Regions from separate parts of the Homo sapiens genome. Here region 1 is linked to region 2. Evidence: fine-mapped expression QTL. A gene starts in region 2. The other region holds a variant in brackets. All regions are shown on one strand. Distances are between the middles of the regions.

Region 1 (3,008 bases), 68 kb before region 2:
AGAGCTGTTTCTGAGAATTGCTGGCCAGCAGTGGGGAACACATGGCTGGTACATATAGCCCTCTCTCAGCACCATGGAATCCTCACCCCCTACCCACCGGCTCCCACCACTGCCCCTCCCACTCAGCACCGGCCTCTGTTCCAGAAGCCAATCAGATTCAATGGGCCAGAGAGGAACAGAAGTGAATACTCCACACAGAGACCCAGGCCAAAAACTCCAGAGCCCACACTAGCCTGTGGTCATGGGACTGGTCCAGTAGGGCCGAGTGCAACAGAGCAGGGAGTATTGGGGACCCAGGCAGGCTTGAGGGCACATTCTTTCCAGATAGGCTGAAAATCCAGATGGTTACATGAAATCTGGACTATTATGAAACTTTTTTTTTTTTGAGGAGTCTCACTATCACCCAAGCTGGAGTGCAATGGCACGATCTTGGCTCACCGCAACCTCCGCCTCCCGGGTTCAAGCAATTCTCCTGTCTCAGCCTCCCGAGTAGCTGGGACTACAGGCGCCTGCCACCATGCCCGGCTAATTTTTGTATTTCAGTAGAGATGGAGTTTCACCATGTTGGCCAGTCTGGTCTCTGACTCCTGACCTCAGGTGGTCTGCCTGTCTCGGCCTCCTAAAGTGCTAGGATTACAGGGGTGAGCCACTGCACCTGGCCAAAACTTTATTTTTATAATGTAATGAGTTATTTAAAAACAATTTTTACAGATAAAAAACACCCCATCTGGGAGCCAGCCCCAGCCCCAGGGCAGCACAGACATACCCACGTCCTGAGATGACAGCCTCCGTGCTAGTTGTGAAACAGCCACCCCAAGACCCTGAGGGTCTCCACCCACCCACTACCTGACTCCTGTCTGGGACCTCTGGTCCCCCCGCCAGGACCCAGAAACAAGAGGGTTAACGCCTGGCACCACAGGGCTCCTGGGTGTTCACTCTGATTGGCCACATCCTTGATTGGTCCTAGGGCCACAGCAGTTGTTGAATGCTTTGAACATGGCCCCTGCATGCATCTCCCCTACCACTCCAGAATCTGGTACCCATACCAGTGGGTCGGGGCTGGGGATGTGTCCATCTCATGGATCACTTCCACTTCCAGAAGGTGGAAAAGTGACCACGAGCCAAGGAGGGGCCCCTAGGACCCCTAGCAACCCCAAAGCCACATCAGCCACTCCCTGGCTGTGCACACCTGGAAGGGTGGCTGGGGCAGGGTGGGGTGGGGTGGGGTGGGGGCTCACCTGGCGGTAGGTGCAGATGATGATCTCCCGCAGGTGGTAGTGCATGGGCGTCATGGTCTCGCTGACAGTGTCCAGCGCTGCGTCCACCTCCTTCTTCACACGGTGCCCATCGGGTAGCAGCTGCACCACCTTCATTACTACCTGGGGCCAGAGAAGGGGGGTGAGCAGACATAAAACTGGTAAGAGCCCTCAGCCCAAGCACCAGGCTTGCACCCTCACCAAAAGGCCACACCAGGCCTAAGGCCCAGGCGCTGAACAGAGAGCCCTGCCTGCTCCTCAGTTCTCAGACTGAGGGAGGACAGGGGGATCCTGAACATCTCCGGGGCCAGGCTACCCAGATGCTTTTCTTTTTCCTCCACAATTGGGATTTATTGGTTGTG[T/C]TGAGGATCAGTACACAGACATTGAATTTGTACCGAATATCTAAAAAAGGCATGGATTATGATTCCTTTTTAGTTATTCCATTGACATTTATTGTTGTTGTTGTTGTTGTTGTTTGGAGACAGAGTCTCACTCTGTCATCCAGGCAGGAGTGCAGTGGCATGATCAGGGCTTACTGAAGCCTCAACTTCCTGGATTCAGGTGATCCTCCTACCCCAGCCTCCTGAGCTGCTGGGACTAAAGGCCCATGCCACCACGCCTGGCTAATATCTTGTACTTTTAGTAGAAACGGGGTTTTGGCATGTTGCCCAGGCTAATCTCGAACTCCTGGGCTAAAGCAATCCACACCCTTGGCCTCCCAAAGTGCTGGAAAGTTATTCCATTAACTTTCCAGCTTAAAATTTGGAGGCAAATTGTTCTTTAAGAAGATATTAAGTACCAGTATTTTCAAGTGTTGATAAACTGTGGCATAAGCCCCACCAATCCACAACTTAATGTCTTGCACACTACACAGATTTTCAGTGTCCAAGCACATCAATAGAGTTACTAGGAAAACGGGACTGCCACAGCCAAAGACATCACAGAGTGCACACAGTTCTCACAGGAGAGCCACAATCAAGAAGTGGTTTACATTAGAAATAATTCTACAAAAAAAACCATGGGAATATAAGTCATTTAAGATGTTCAAGACATATTAAATGCACGACTGTGACTCCAAATTGCCATTTTGTATGCTTTGTATTACATGATACAAAAACCACCCCAATGCACCCATGGAATGTTAAGCTGATCTAAGGTGCTTATTTTTGTTTTGTTTTGTTTTGTTTTGCTTGAGATGGAGTCTCGCCCTGTCACCCAGTCTGGAGTGTAGTGGTGAGATCTCGGCTCACTGCAACCTCTGCCTCTTAGGTTCAAGAAATTCTCCCGCCTCAGCCTCCCGAGTAGCTGGGATTACAGGCACCTGCCACCGCACCCAGCTAATTTTTGTATTTTTAGTAGAGACAGGGTTTCACCATGTTGGCCAGGCTGGTCTTGAACTCCTGGCCTCAGGTGATCCACCCGCCTAAGTCTCCCAAAGTGCTGGGATTACAGGCATGAGCCACCACGCCTGGTCGAGGTGCTTATTTTTTAAGCAGTAGAAATCCTGCTTCAAATGAGGCCTCATGCAGAACTTTGATCTATAAAACAGATAGCTGTCACGTACTAGGGCTGGAGGGGTGAGGAGGGGGTGTAAGAAGCCTCCCCACCCTCCTCCTAACCTGCAGCAGCCCCCAGCCACTGCGCAGACGCTCAGAGTTGGACACCACTCATCTGATATAATTCCCCACCCCAGCCAGGTGCAGTGGCTCATACCTGTAATCCCAGCACTTTGGGAGGCCGAGGTGGGGAGAT
Region 2 (2,724 bases):
TTCAGAAAGGAAGTGAGGACTTCCTCCTGCTTACCTCTGAACCTCCTACAAGGCTGGCTCTAGACCCCAAACCCCAGGAGCCACAGGGCAACTAGGAGTGTCCTGTGCTCAGCCCAAGCCAAGAAACCAAATGGGTTATTTCAGAAATCCACCAGCAGGAAACAAACAAACCTGGGAGTGGGTGGGGATGAGTGCAGGAGAACCTCCTCAGCGCCCCTGCTGCTCCCTGCCCTTGGAGCAAGGTAATAAGGAAGGGCGGGCATGGAGCTGGAACATTTCAGCACATTTGCTTGCTTGCATGGAACTGGATCTCTGCTGCCCTGGCACTCTCGCAGCCTACATTACTCACATAGCAATTAATGGTGTGTAGCCTCTTGGCTTTCCACTATTACCAGTTCAGGACTGGTATTGAAACCCTGTATCGGGGAACTTTGTGTGTTTATGTCCTGTCTTGCCCCCAGGGGCTGAGCCTCCTGAGGACAGAATCCTCCAAATCCTCCTCCATCCACACATTCCAGGGGCACGGCCCAGTGCCCTTCCTGGCATTTAAGAGGTGCTCGGCCACTGGGTTCAGGTTACTCTACCCAGAAGCCAAGGAGTTGGTTCCTGGGCCTCTGGCTGGGAGAGTAGAGATGCCCAGAAGATTCCCTGGGCCATGAAGCTTTACTCCCATCTCTGACAACCCAAGAGAAAGGGCTCCAACCATCCCGGCCACCTTCAGGAGCCGGGTCTCCCATAGGCCACTCTCTCTCTGACAGGTTACTGCCCCTTCAGGAAAACCCTCTGAAACTGAAAAACGTACTCTCCTTGGAGACCCGGGCCTACAGAGGAAGAGGGCCAGACTGGGCCAAGAATCAAAGCCTGTGCCCGCTGAGACTTCTGGACTCGTCCTGGGTCTGAGGGCCTCACGCCCCCTAGAGATGAGTCCCAGGACCCCATCTCGGTCATGAAGCGGCTTCCCTCTCCCCAATCTCCCCCTAACTTCGCGGGAAACCCTAGCTCCTGGCCATGCTCCCAGGTCTGGCAATGAAAAGTGGAATTGTCACCAGGCCATGCCTACACCAAACCCAGGGAACTCGGGAGAGGGGGTAGCCCAGGGTCCAACACACACAACCACCCAGCAACTGCTCCCTGTGAGTCCCTCTTGCCTCCCAGGGACCAATCCTGAGCGGGTGTGGGGTGAAGGCCCAGGACCTCACCTCTCCAAAGGATGGGGAGTTGGTGTCTGGAGCAGCCTCGGGCTGGGGGGTGCCCGGGGGATTCCAGATTTGCCCTCCCCTCGCCAGCCCCAGGGCAGGACACTTCGGTACCTGCCAGCCCGCGGCTCCGGGGGGCATCCGTGCTCCTGCGGCCGGCGTGCTGCGCCCGAACTGCGGGCGCCGAGTCAGGCAGCGACGGGGCGCGCCCGGCGCGCGCTCTGGCTCCAGCTCGCTCCTCCCAACTTCGCCAGCCCATGCGGGGGCAGAGGTGGCTCCGGAGGTGGGCAGGCCAGGCGGACCCGGCGAGGCCACGCGAGAGGGAGCCCGTGCTCACCGGCGACGGGACCTGCGCGCCCCGGCCCGTGCGCGCCGCGCTGCTCCCCAGCGCCCCGCTACCCAACGCCGAGGGGCGGACCCGACCCGGCCGCCAATCACCGCGCCCGCCCCCGCCCGGACCGCGAGTCCCGGCCCCACCGCGAGGGGCGGGGGGCTCAGATTTAAAGACACACTCAGCCCAGCCGCAGCCCCCGGGCGGGAGGAACGCGGGCGCCACGTTCCCCGGCTGCGCTTCCTCCCTCCGCCCGCCCACCCTCCGCGAGGAGGAAAAGTTTGGGGCGGGGGAGACTGCCCGGGAAGCCAGTTCCTCTTCCCTCGTCGCTAGTGCGGCTCCTTCTGGAAGACACCCAAACCCGACATCCAGCCTCCTGGCTGCGAGAGGCAGCAGCGCTCTGGGCGCCACACCCCGTCCCGGACGCCGGCTACCCGCGACACCCGCTGGCCCGGCTTCCCTCGCCCCCCTCTGCTTTACAGCCAGGCCGAGCCTCGGCGGGACCGAGCCCAGCATCCGGGCTCCGGGCCGGCCTCGCTGTGCAGTGCGGCCGGAGCTGGATGATGGTGCGCTCTGCACTTTTGCCTCCCACGTGTCGAAGGGGAGCCCCTAAACAGCAGACGGTCCCCCCAAGCAGGGGCTTCTCCCACGCCCCGGGGTCCTAAGGAAACGCGCCCCTCGGCCCCCAGAGGTGAGAGGGGAACAGCAGAGCAGAGCTTTGGATGGAGAGGGGTCCCTCCGCCCCCACCCATCATGCGGCTCCAGGCAGTGACCCGCACCATAGGCCTGCCCCCCCCACCACTCCTCACCCCACACGCGCGGACTAGCACTAGGCGGCAGCCAGCCCGGCCCACTCCGACGGCCCCGCACGCCCCCGCGAGCACGTGGGTGAACGCACCCACGTGCGTGCGTTCACTCTTCGCTGTGCTTCCTCGCGGAGAGATAGGCTTTGTTGTGGTTGGTGAGTCACTTCCTCCCTCTCGCTGCTCCACACTCGGGAAATCCTTTTTTCTCACCTGTTACCACCTGCCTCACCCCCATTCAGGACTGGAGCTGGATTTCGGCGAGCTGGGGTTGCCCCAGGATGCAGGCAGTGTAGGCCCCACCTCTGTCAGGCTGGAGAGCGCTGGGCTGGGAGAGGGGAACACATTCCCCATGACCCCTAAGAATAACTGAAGACAAGAGAAATCACTCATT

Evidence for each region.
Region 1: its variant is fine-mapped to the expression of PALD1 in testis (GTEx, PIP 0.99).

Annotation. Positions count from the first base shown.
Region 1 is chr10:70,545,677-70,548,684 of GRCh38, reverse strand. PALD1 (phosphatase domain containing paladin 1) reads right to left here. Exons shown (of 20, transcript NM_014431.3): 18 at 1,239-1,379. Among named protein-coding and RNA genes, the nearest start is that of PRF1, 56 kb to the left of the region's middle. The variant T/C (reference allele first, on the strand shown) is at 1,619.
Region 2 is chr10:70,477,646-70,480,369 of GRCh38, reverse strand. It overlaps PALD1 (phosphatase domain containing paladin 1), which reads right to left and starts at 1,603. Exons shown (of 20, transcript NM_014431.3): 1 at 1,311-1,603. RefSeq lists an enhancer at 1-273 and silencers at 1,268-1,717, 1,918-1,987.